Linked DNA regions of Homo sapiens. The protein of the gene in region 3 purifies or fractionates together with the protein of the main gene of each other region. This does not show direct contact. Each region holds a gene or a part of one and is shown on either strand. Other genes may lie near its edges. The genes, in order: NOLC1, NOP2 and NOP56.

Evidence for each region.
Region 1: the proteins of NOP56 (region 3) and NOLC1 purify together in Homo sapiens (affinity purification with mass spectrometry; 6 studies listed by BioGRID and IntAct, with this or other methods). This does not show direct contact.
Region 2: the proteins of NOP56 (region 3) and NOP2 fractionate together in Homo sapiens (co-fractionation; 3 studies listed by BioGRID and IntAct, with this or other methods). This does not show direct contact.

The regions. Positions count from the first base shown.
Region 1 is NC_000010.11:102,158,815-102,162,460, reverse strand, and holds part of NOLC1 (nucleolar and coiled-body phosphoprotein 1), read right to left. Parts: intron 3,269-3,646; coding exon 3,153-3,268; coding exon of another isoform or gene 3,123-3,152; intron 3,029-3,122; coding exon 2,893-3,028; intron 2,566-2,892; coding exon 2,437-2,565; intron 2,229-2,436; coding exon 2,118-2,228; intron 2,010-2,117; coding exon 1,368-2,009; intron 906-1,367; coding exon 799-905; intron 629-798; coding exon 536-628; intron 351-535; coding exon 192-350; 3' UTR 1-191. UniProt on the Homo sapiens protein: Nucleolar protein that acts as a regulator of RNA polymerase I by connecting RNA polymerase I with enzymes responsible for ribosomal processing and modification.
Region 2 is NC_000012.12:6,561,784-6,565,429, forward strand, and holds part of NOP2 (28S rRNA (cytosine(4447)-C(5))-methyltransferase), read right to left. Parts: intron 2,466-3,646; coding exon of another isoform or gene 2,367-2,465; intron 2,164-2,366; coding exon 2,108-2,163; intron 1,989-2,107; coding exon 1,831-1,988; intron 1,732-1,830; coding exon 1,532-1,731; intron 1,388-1,531; coding exon 1,298-1,387; intron 189-1,297; coding exon 101-188; intron 22-100; coding exon 1-21. UniProt on the Homo sapiens protein: S-adenosyl-L-methionine-dependent methyltransferase that specifically methylates the C(5) position of cytosine 4447 in 28S rRNA. Required for efficient rRNA processing and 60S ribosomal subunit biogenesis.
Region 3 is NC_000020.11:2,655,632-2,659,039, forward strand, and holds the end of NOP56 (nucleolar protein 56), read left to right. Parts: coding exon 1-115; intron 116-302; coding exon 303-403; exon of another isoform or gene 404-583; intron 584-769; coding exon 770-918; intron 919-992; exon of another isoform or gene 993-1,063; intron 1,064-1,142; coding exon 1,143-1,264; intron 1,265-1,307; exon of another isoform or gene 1,308-1,379; intron 1,380-1,449; coding exon 1,450-1,587; intron 1,588-1,741; exon of another isoform or gene 1,742-1,857; intron 1,858-2,297; coding exon 2,298-2,663; 3' UTR 2,664-2,762; downstream 2,763-3,408. Other genes in the region: IDH3B (isocitrate dehydrogenase [NAD] subunit beta, mitochondrial isoform e precursor), read right to left, coding at 2,878-2,891, 3,128-3,206. UniProt on the Homo sapiens protein: Involved in the early to middle stages of 60S ribosomal subunit biogenesis. Required for the biogenesis of box C/D snoRNAs such U3, U8 and U14 snoRNAs. Part of the small subunit (SSU) processome, first precursor of the small eukaryotic ribosomal subunit.

The DNA.
Region 1 (3,646 bases), on a different chromosome or scaffold from region 3:
AAACAAGTCTGTACAAAACTAGGAACACAGAAAAGGACCAGAGAGGATGTTACACTGTAAAGTCTTAGGACCTACTCTAAACTTCTGTCCTCATCAAGACCCTCACCTAGAGACCTGAGGGTTCCCAGGTCCACTGGAGAAAGTAAGTAGTCTCCGATCATCACCCTTGCTTCACCGAAGATGGCCTCAGGTCACTCGCTGTCAAACTTAATAGAATTGACCTGGACAGAGATTGAGCCTCCCCGGTAGCTGCCCCGCTTCTTCTTGGTTTTCTCATGCCGAAAGGACTTGCCTTTGGTGAACTTCAAAACCTGATTGGCTCGCTCTCCCCAGTCTCCGGCTGCACCTCGCTGGTAAGTAGAGAGGGAGATTAACACAGAGGAGGACCATGCTGGAGCCCTGTCACTTTATTCTTTCTACTCCCTGCTCAAGGAAACCTGAACCCAGAGAAGATTCCCACCAACCTGAACCAAGAATTGTCCTCTCTGACACTACCCATCCTCCCTCCCAAGAATGGCACAGATCTCTCTCTCACCTTGGCATCAAAGGAGTTGTCCGCAACTCGTGAATCCACCTCAATTTCCTCCTCCCTGACCCTTCGGAATGGGGATGATGCCCTTTTTTCTCCCTACAGAAGAATGAAGTAGGAAATTAAAGACAGAGTGGTCATGTAACAGTTCTCCTGAGTGATACACATGGGCACATGTACCAGGTCACGCCAGGCAGAGCTGTCAAGATGATCCTAGATTTTTCTACTTTTAAAGAGCTGGCTCCTGAGAAGAAAGTGAGACAACTTACTTTCTTCCTTTTTGGAAATGTGTTAGGGGTCTGAAGCTTTATCTTCTTGGCCTGAGGAGTCTCTGCCTCCTTGGCAGCCTCATTCTGCTTCCGCTTCTTTAATGAACCTACAAAACAAAAAGCCAGACTCAGGCCGAGTACAGTGGCTCACAACTGTAACCCCAGCATTTTGGGAGTCCAAGGTAGGAGGATCGCTTGAGCCCAGGAAATTCAGATCAGCCTGGGCAATATAGTGAGATTCTGTCTCTATAAAAAGTTAAAAAAATGAGCCAGACATGGTGGTGCATGCTTGTAGTCCCGGCTACTCAGGAGGCTGGGGTGGAAAGATCACCTGAGTCCATGAGGTTAAGGCTGCACAAGCCGTGATCATGCCATTGCACCCTGGTCTGGGTGACACAGTGAGACTCTAATAAAAAAAAAAAAAGGTAACCAGTTTCCTGTTCTTCCTCCCAGTTTCCACAACTGGAAGCCCAGTGGTGGGCCTCCTCTCACTACCCTACTCTCAAAGAGTATATCCCATCCTGATTTGGGGGGACAAAACCCAGAGGGCATGTTCATTGGGTACAGACCTGATTTGGAAACTACCACTGCCGCCTTTTTCTTTTCTTCTTCCTCCTCCTCACTGTTCTTAGCTGCTTTTCCATTCTGGGCAGTCAGTGCAGAGGTGCCATTGGCCTTGGGGGCTTGTGGTCTTGGAGAGCCCTTGCCCTTGAGCTTCTCTTCCTCTTCCTCACTGGAGTCATCAGAAGAAGAACTGTTGCTGCTCTCAGCCTTTCCTTTCTTTGCAGAGGCTGGCTTGGAAGGGGCTGCACCTCCTGCTACCTTCTGTGGCTTCTTCTTAACTGCAGACTTAGATGTCTTCTCTTCCTCCTCCTCACTGCTGGAGCTGTCTGAATCAGAGCTGCTGTCCCTACTACCCTGAGGAGCCTGCTTGGCAGGCAGAGATAGAGCTGCTTTGGCAGTCGCCTTGGGCTTAGTGGTGGCCACCATCTTCTTTGTCTTCTCCTCCTCACTGGAGCTGCTCTCTTCCTCACTGGAGCTGCTGTCAGCCTTTCTCGTCAGAAGCTTCTGGCCACCGCCCACAGGTTGCTTGGGGGCTGCAGCTGGCTTCACTGCAGGTGACTTGGTGGTGACAGCTGGCTTATTTGAAGAATTCTTGGTGGTACCAGCTGGCTTAGAAGGAGCTTCATCATCCTCAGAGCTGTCAGAGTCTAGACACAGAAGGGATGGAATCAACAGCTCCCCAAATTGGATTCAGGGGAGCCCTTAGCAGCTGCCTGAGAGCATCTCACTGAACTGAGGGCCTCCATATGCCTTACCTGAGCTGTCTGAAGAGCTCTCTGCTGCTTTCTTTGCTGGAGGTGGTTTAGTGGTTGCTTTAGAGACTACTGCCTTAGTTGGGGGTTTCTTCTCTTCTTCAGAACTTGAATCTGAGGAGAACCTGTAGCATTATGCTGGGTCCAGAGTCCCAACCCAACCAGGACAGCAATAAAAAGAATGCAAAGACACGCACAGAGCCTTAGCTCTGTCTTGCTTTAAGCAAAAAGCAACCGAAGGATGGAAGGCTTTCTCTCTCCCTTATTCCTCATCCCCTCCTCCAGACCCACGCTGAGGGGAGGCTGCATCCCTCTGACTCACCAGACTCATCACTGCTGTCTTCACTGCTTTCCACAGGCTGCTGCTTCTCCACAGCCTTCTTGGGAGGCTGGGTTCCCAGAGACTTCTTTGGTGGGGGAGCAGAAGGCGGGGGGACTGAACTGTAGGGACCTGTTTAAAAAGGATAGTGTGATGGTTTTAGGATATGTCTACAACTTTTTTTGATACTACTTTCTTGTAGAAATGAAGCTTAATTCCCCTTCACTTGAGTATGGGCCAGAATCAATGACTCAGTTCTAACAGAACATGGTGTCACCTCTGAGTCTAGGTTACACAAGGCACTGGAGATTTCTCCTTGCTTTCCTGGATCACTAGTGCTCGGAGAAGCTAGCTGTCATGTCATGAGGACGCTCATGCACCTCTATGGAGAGGTCCATGTGGTTACTGCAGCTGGGCCCTGACCACAGTCACACAGCTTCGCTCCCCATGTCCAGTCACCTGGTTTATTTTTCATGGGTTTTTTTTGCTCCTCTTCCTCGTCACTGGAGGAATCCTCACTGCTAGAACTCTTCCGGGTAGGGGTGGTAGCTGCTTTCACTGGGGCCTTGGCCACAACTTGCTTTTTAGGTACAGTCTGCATTAGAAAGAAAATTGATTACCACAGGAAAATGCTGACCCAACCAATCCTGCCAGGGAAGGAAGACACACACACATCACACCCTGGTCACCTCTGCCCTGACAGAAGTTATGGTCCAGACCTTCTTGGGGGTGGCTGCTGCCTTCTCCTCCTCTGAGTCATCACTGCTACTGCTGCTGCTGCTGCTACTGCTGCTACTGGCTGCTTTACCATTGGCTATTTTAGGTGCTGCTCGAGCTGGAATACCCAAGAAAAAGAAAGAGTAAGGAGTATTAGGGCAAGTCAGGACCATGAAAAACCTCCTTCCTATGAGCAGAGAACTTAGGAGTCCACCATTTTTTTTTTTTTTTTTTTTTTTTTTTTTGGAGACGGAGTCTGGCTCTGGCTCTGTTGCACAGGCTAGTGTGCAGTGGTTCAGGCAACTCTCCCGCCTCAGCCTCTGGAGTAGCTGGGATTACAGGTGCCCACCACCATGCCCAGCTAATTTTTATATTTTTAGTAGACACAGGGTTTCGCCATGTTGGCCAGGCTGGTCTTGAACTCCTGACCTCAAGCAATCCGCCCGCCTCAGCCTCCCAAAGTGCTGGGATTATAGGTGTGAGCCACTGTGCCTGG
Region 2 (3,646 bases), on a different chromosome or scaffold from region 3:
CCAGGTACTCGGGGGTAGCACCTGTGGAGAAGGACCACCCTGTGACATGCGGTAGGGACAGGGACAGAGGTAGAAGGGCTCTTGGGTGGGGGAGACTTACCAATGGGCACAGAAGAATCATACACCACTAGTCCAGTCTTTGACCACTTGCCCAGGGGATCCAGGTTAACCCCACGATTGATTAGAGCCTGAAAAGGGATGAAGATTTTTTTTTTTTTTTTTTGAGATGGAGTCTCACTCTGTTGCCCAGGCTAGAGTGAGGTGGCGCAATCTCGGCTCACAGCAACCTCCACCTCCCAGATTCAAGCGATTCTCTCGTGCCTCAGCCTCCTGAGTAGCTGGGACAACGGGCATGTACCACCATGCCTGGCTAATTTTTGTATTTTTCATAGGATGGGGTTTCACCATGTTGGCCAGGCTGGTCTCTAACTCCTGACCTCAGGTGATCTGCCCGCCTCGGCCTCCCAAAGTGCTGGGATTACAGGCGTTGAGTCACCGCGCCCGGTAGGGATGAAGATTTTAATAACCTCATAGGCTACTCTACCCAGAAGACAGATGAAGACATTAAACACATGCTTCATAAAAACATGGCCCATACCCCACAACTCCTATAGTGCTTACTCCAAACACAGTCATCATGGAGTCATTGAGCAGTTTCTCTCTCCCACTCCATCCTATGGTGCCCTTTTTTCTTAACCTCAGGCTCCTAACTCAAGATCTGAACTTCATCCCAATGGAGCAGGATGCCACCTCCTGTTACTTTATTTCCTAGAAGTGGCATCTGATTTTCTAAGAGGCTGAGCCCCTCCACTATACTAAAAATTTAATGACATTGGTTATACCACATTACATTATTAGGTTTTCTTCACACCAGGAAATATACAACACATATAACCCAACAACTGACTTTACAACAGGGGTCTTTAACCTGGGGCCCCTGAACCCTTGGAAATGAGTTTAAAATATTGACTGTGCATATGTGTCTTTTTTGTGCAGTCAGGAATCATATTTCCCCAGCTCCTCAATGATCTCCCTCCAATTTCCTTGGGGGCAGCACGCTCATCCTGAAGTCTCATCATCCTAGTCACAGGGAGCAGAGTATGAACTTCCCATTCCACAGAGGTCCTAGGCCCCCAGATCCTATCCTGCCAGAGACATCAGGCCTCTGGGTTTGCCCCCCCAGGATCATGCTTAGGTCCTAAGGCCCCACCCAGTCAGGGTAGCACAGAGGAATCTCTGGAGTTGGCAGAAGTCACTTCCCTTCTGAGATGAGTGAGCCTCAAAGGCCACCCCTCACCTGTGCAAGGTCTCGGCGTCGGGTTTTCAAGGTATTGGTCCGGAGGGTGACGGGCCGAGGCACCTCATTAGCTTCTAAGAACTCCACCAGCTGCGGGGCAAGACAGCAGGGAATAAGTGAGGCTGGCTAAGGAGCTCAGTCAGAAGAGGGGAGCAAGGGGGCCGAACATCTTCCTTACACAGCGTAAGGAGGCGAGAAAAGAAAAGCAAAAGAGGCATTCTGGCAATCCAGTACCTCAGACAGAGGGAAGAGGTCCATGAGCTTGCCAAGCAGGAAGTCTCCATAGGAGTAGTAAATGGCCAGATCCTTCTTGAGCCGGTTCAGGTATTCAGAACGAGACCGCCCTTCCTCCCGCTGAGCCCCAAAATCACGCAGAATTCCCACAATATCCTGGATCCGCTTGTGAACTCGTTGCAGGTCTGGAGCCTGGGCATGTGGGCCTGTTAAGGAACTGTGTCATGATGTCCTAAGGCCTGGAAATCCCTCTCCCAACCACCTTCCTCCTAACTCTTCACTCTGCCCTGCAAGGATATCCTGCTCCATCTCCCCAGCAGGGGGCAGCACAAATGGTTCCTCATCCACATTGATCTGCAGGCCCCCATCTGCCTCTTCCACCTTTGGGGGGCCTGACTCAGGGGTCACTTCTTTCTCTTCCTCCTCGTCCTCGGTCTCCTCTTCACTCCACTGGATCCTAGAAACAGGTCCAGGAACAGAGTGATTCACAGACCAAAACAGATACCTCCTCCTTCCTCACAGCTTCCCCACCCCAGTGGCTTCCTATGCTCCATCCCAATAGCTTCCAAAACTCACCCAGCAGCAGCTTCCCGGGCCTTCTGCTTCCGAGCAGCTCTTTCAATGGGCAGCAACTGAAGAGAGACAAGGGCTATTAATACAGGCCTGCCCTTCCATCAGCCCTTGTAGCAGTTCTATCTCTATATCTTATTTTTTCGCTAAATAAAAATCCAACACTTGCTCTCAGAAGGAAATAGAGGAGCAAAGAAATGAAAATAAGATGGGCGCAGCATTGCTCACTGTTGAAACTAAGTAATGAGGGCATGGTGGCACACACCTGTAAATCCCAGCTACTTGGGAAGCTGAGGCAGGAGAATTGCTTGAACCCGGGAGGTGGAGGTTGCAGTGAGCCAAGACCGAGCCACTGCACTCCAGCCTGGGCAACAGAGAAAGACTTCATCTCAAAAAAAAAAAAAAAAAACCTAAGTAATAAATTAAAGGGTTCATTACATTTTTCTTTCTACTATTATGTTTTTCACTTTTCCATTAAGAAAAAAAAAAAACTTGAAAAATACCTGGATGTATAAAGAAGGACAAAAATGGCCCTTGACTACCATTCTGCCATATTTTTTTTGAGAGAAGTCTCGCTCTTGTCCCCCAGGCTGGAGTGCAATGGCGCGTCTTGGCTCACTGCAACCTCCGCCTCCCAGGTTCAAATGATTCTCCTGCCTCAGCCTCCCAAGTAGCTGGGATTATAGGCGCGCACCACCATGCCCAGCTAATTTTTTGTATTTTTAGCAGAGATGGGGTTTCACCATGATGGCCAAGCTGGTTTTGAACTCCTGACCTCAGGTGATCCGCCCACCTCGGCCTCCCAAAGTGCTGGGATTACAGGTGTGAGCCACCGTGCCTGGCCCATTTTGTCGTTTTTTTTTTTTTTTTACTTACTCTGTATTTTTCACATAATCCATTTTCAAGTTTGTTTCTTGCTTTTTAGACTTCAGTTACATCACAGGCATTTTCATAGACATAATGACCAGTGTAACTGCATCATATGCATGAACCATAACTTACTTAAGCATATTGTGTATTTTGGAAGTTTCCTGAGTTTTTGGCATTATGATCCACATGGTGCCTGCAAACCTAATAATGACCCTGTAGATACAAGGGGATGTAGGAAGGGGGTGCACATGGGGACCTTCTCTTTTTATTCTATACGATTCTAATAATACATCCACACACTAATTGTATAATAACTTCCTGCACCTCAGTAAAGAACTATTTGCTGACATTTTGGATCATCTTCCTTAATAGGGAATTACTATGTCAAAAGGAAGCAGTTATTTTTTTTTTTTTTTTTTGAGACAGTCTCACTCTGTCACCCAAGCTGGAGTGCAGTGGTAAGATCACAGCTCACTGCAGCCTCAACCTCCCAAGCTCCAGTCATCTTCCCGCTTCAGCATCCTGAGAAGCTGGGACTACAGGCGTACGCCACCACACCCAGCTAATTTTTAAACCATTTTTTAACTTAACTTTTTTTTTTTTTGAGACAGAGTCTCACTTTGTTGCCCAGGCTGGAGTGCAATGGCATGATCTCGGCTCACTGCCATCTCCGCC
Region 3 (3,408 bases):
GAGCTTCTCCAGTCGTGTGGTGTCTTTATCTGAATACCGCCAGAGCCTACACACTTACCTGCGCTCCAAGATGAGCCAAGTAGCCCCCAGCCTGTCAGCCCTAATTGGGGAAGCGGTGCGTCACAGGGGACTCAAAAATGGGAGAATAAGGACTGTTGCCATGTGCACCTGCACTGCTGTATTTCGTGACCCACCATGTCTTCCCTAGTTGTGCTTGATGGGGAGGTGGGGAGCAGGGCTGTCGTGCAACTGGGCAGGTCAGCAGTTCATTTCTCTGACTGCTTCCTTGACTCTCTCTCCAGGTAGGTGCACGTCTCATCGCACATGCTGGCAGCCTCACCAACCTGGCCAAGTATCCAGCATCCACAGTGCAGATCCTTGGGGCTGAAAAGGCCCTGTTCAGGTACCAGTGAGGGCACCTGCCCACAATCAGGTGCCACTTCTGGTGCCCACTGCTTGTTGGGGGATCACGGTGATGGCTGACCAGGGCTCCCTGACCTATACAGGCCTCTGCTATGGGGGTGATGGCCAGTCCTGGTGTCTGAGTGATTCCCAGGGCCCAGCAAAGGGACCAAGTTTCCAGGTCAGCGACATTGGATGCCTTCCCTCTGCCTCTGGGAGCTATGGGTTGGCATGCATTGGGGTAGAGATCCAATCTGGCCTGAGGCTCACTCAGGACTTCGGGGTGAGAGGAGGGGAGGAGCTGAGCTGCCTTGGCTAATGGGGTTGAAATTTCTGATCTTAAACTCTCCACTGAATATTCTCTCAGAGCCCTGAAGACAAGGGGTAACACTCCAAAATATGGACTCATTTTCCACTCCACCTTCATTGGCCGAGCAGCTGCCAAGAACAAAGGCCGCATCTCCCGATACCTGGCAAACAAATGCAGTATTGCCTCACGAATCGATTGCTTCTCTGGTATGGGTGGGGGGGCGTTGGCAGGTGTGAGAAGGGGCTGGGTGGCTGGGTGGGGAGGCTTGCAACCATAGCTTCCACAATGATGGCAATATTTTTCGTCAACAGCAGTTCACCTAGTGAGTGTTGAGACTCTGGGTCTGAGTGAAGCTGAGGGTAGAGGGAACACAGGGTTGGGGTAGTTTCTCTCTTTGGGCTGACAGGCTTTGTCACCCACACACATCCAGAGGTGCCCACGAGTGTATTCGGGGAGAAGCTTCGAGAACAAGTTGAAGAGCGACTGTCCTTCTATGAGACTGGAGAGATACCACGAAAGAATCTGGATGTCATGAAGGAAGCAATGGTTCAGGTCAGTTGGGCTTTGCTGGGTGTGGAGTGGCATAGCTAGCTGTTGGAGGTGATGAACTGTCTGAGCCTGACCTTGTAGAATGGAGGCAAAAAAACTGATTTAATGAGCCTGATCCAATAAAGCCAGAAAGGAGTCCTCAGAGCACCAGAAGTCTTCAGGCCCTTTTAGCACTTTTCTTTGACCAGGCAGAGGAAGCGGCTGCTGAGATTACTAGGAAGCTGGAGAAACAGGAGAAGAAACGCTTAAAGAAGGAAAAGAAACGGCTGGCTGCACTTGCCCTCGCGTCTTCAGAAAACAGCAGTAGTACTCCAGAGGAGTGTGAGGTCAGTAGGCAGCACGGCCCTGGCAGAGATCCTAGGTTGTAGGATTTTCAACAGCAGAACAAAGGATATGCTGCATCAAGCTGTGGTCTTGAGTCCAGGCTTTTGGACTGAAACAAGGACCTGAAACATCTAAAACTACCTCTTGATTCTATAGGAAGGAGATAGGTGCTGAACTTGCTCAAGAGCCCAGAGAGCTGGTTGTAGCTCACACCCGTTCCCTGGGCATGTGTGTTCTGTCCTCGGCTGCCTCCCAGGAGTCCTCAACCTGGGGTAGTGTAAATTCCTGCTCTGCTTATTATCAGACGTGTGTCCGGAGGTGGTCGTGTTTCACAGTGGGGATGGGGGCAGGGAGGTCCCCAATGTGCTAAGCTACAATCATTCTCCCTGAGATTTTCATTTAGCACCCAGTTTCTTAAACAGTGTTTCAGGGCCCTGTCTGGAACTTGGCATGATGGTTCTGTTGCGACCAGCATGGTGGGTGTTTTTTAGGTTTTTTTTTTTAATGGGCTGAGGTAATTTCTCATGACATGTTTTCCTTCTAATTTGGGACAGCCTTTGGGGTGGATTTCTAAAGTTATACCCACACAATTAAACTATCCCAGAAACACTGGGCAATGTTAACGACACGCGTTCCCCTGCCTTGGCTACTTAATTGCTGAAGATGTAATGAGCACTGTTCTCACAGCCTGTTCCCCTGTCCTTCCCTTTAGGAGATGAGTGAAAAACCCAAAAAGAAGAAAAAGCAAAAGCCCCAGGAGGTTCCTCAGGAGAATGGAATGGAAGACCCATCTATCTCTTTCTCCAAACCCAAGAAAAAGAAATCTTTTTCCAAGGAGGAGTTGATGAGTAGCGATCTTGAAGAGACCGCTGGCAGCACCAGTATTCCCAAGAGGAAGAAGTCTACACCCAAGGAGGAAACAGTTAATGACCCTGAGGAGGCAGGCCACAGAAGTGGCTCCAAGAAAAAGAGGAAATTCTCCAAAGAGGAGCCGGTCAGCAGTGGGCCTGAAGAGGCGGTTGGCAAGAGCAGCTCCAAGAAGAAGAAAAAGTTCCATAAAGCATCCCAGGAAGATTAGAATGCAAATGGACATTCTCTGGGAGGTGGGGCATACCATAGCCCAAGGTGACATTTCCCACCCTGTGCCGTGTTCCCCAATAAAAACAAATTCACAAGAGTTGGTTCATGTTCTTTATTGAACACCTTACATGGGTATGGACAGGGCCTATGGGTGGGGCAAGGCAGCAATGACAGCCTCAGTGAAGTCATGGCAAGTAGCATAGCCACCCATGTCAGAGGTTCGAACCTGTGGGGGAGAATCATCATCATCCATGTGGCCTGGGCTCCATCCTAACAATCCCCATCACCACCCAACAGTCTGTCCCCTAAGGAAGCCGGCCCAAGGACAACCTAGGCTCTACCCAGCAAGGTGACCATGGTCCACTGCTTAGAGGCACAAGGTCTCTTCCCTGGTACACTGCACTGAAGGGTATGGGGAGTGTGGTCCTTGCAAGGTTGGAAGAAATAAAGGGCTCTAGCTCCCTTTAGTCTGCAGGTGACCGATGACAGACTTGATGAAGTCGGTTGTGGTGCTGTAGCCGCCCATGTCTCGAGTCCGCACCTACAGCCACCACCGGCAACAGCCGTGGGGAGGGAGAAAAGAGAGCCCATGAAGGGAGGTAGGGCAATGTGATTGAGGAAATGGAAGCCAAGAATGCGTGACAGCCAGAAAAAAGGCAATGCACAGGAATGGAAGGAGGAGCCAGGATGGGAAGCACATGGACCTGCCACTCCTCTTAAGCCACTATTAGCTGTGCTGCAGC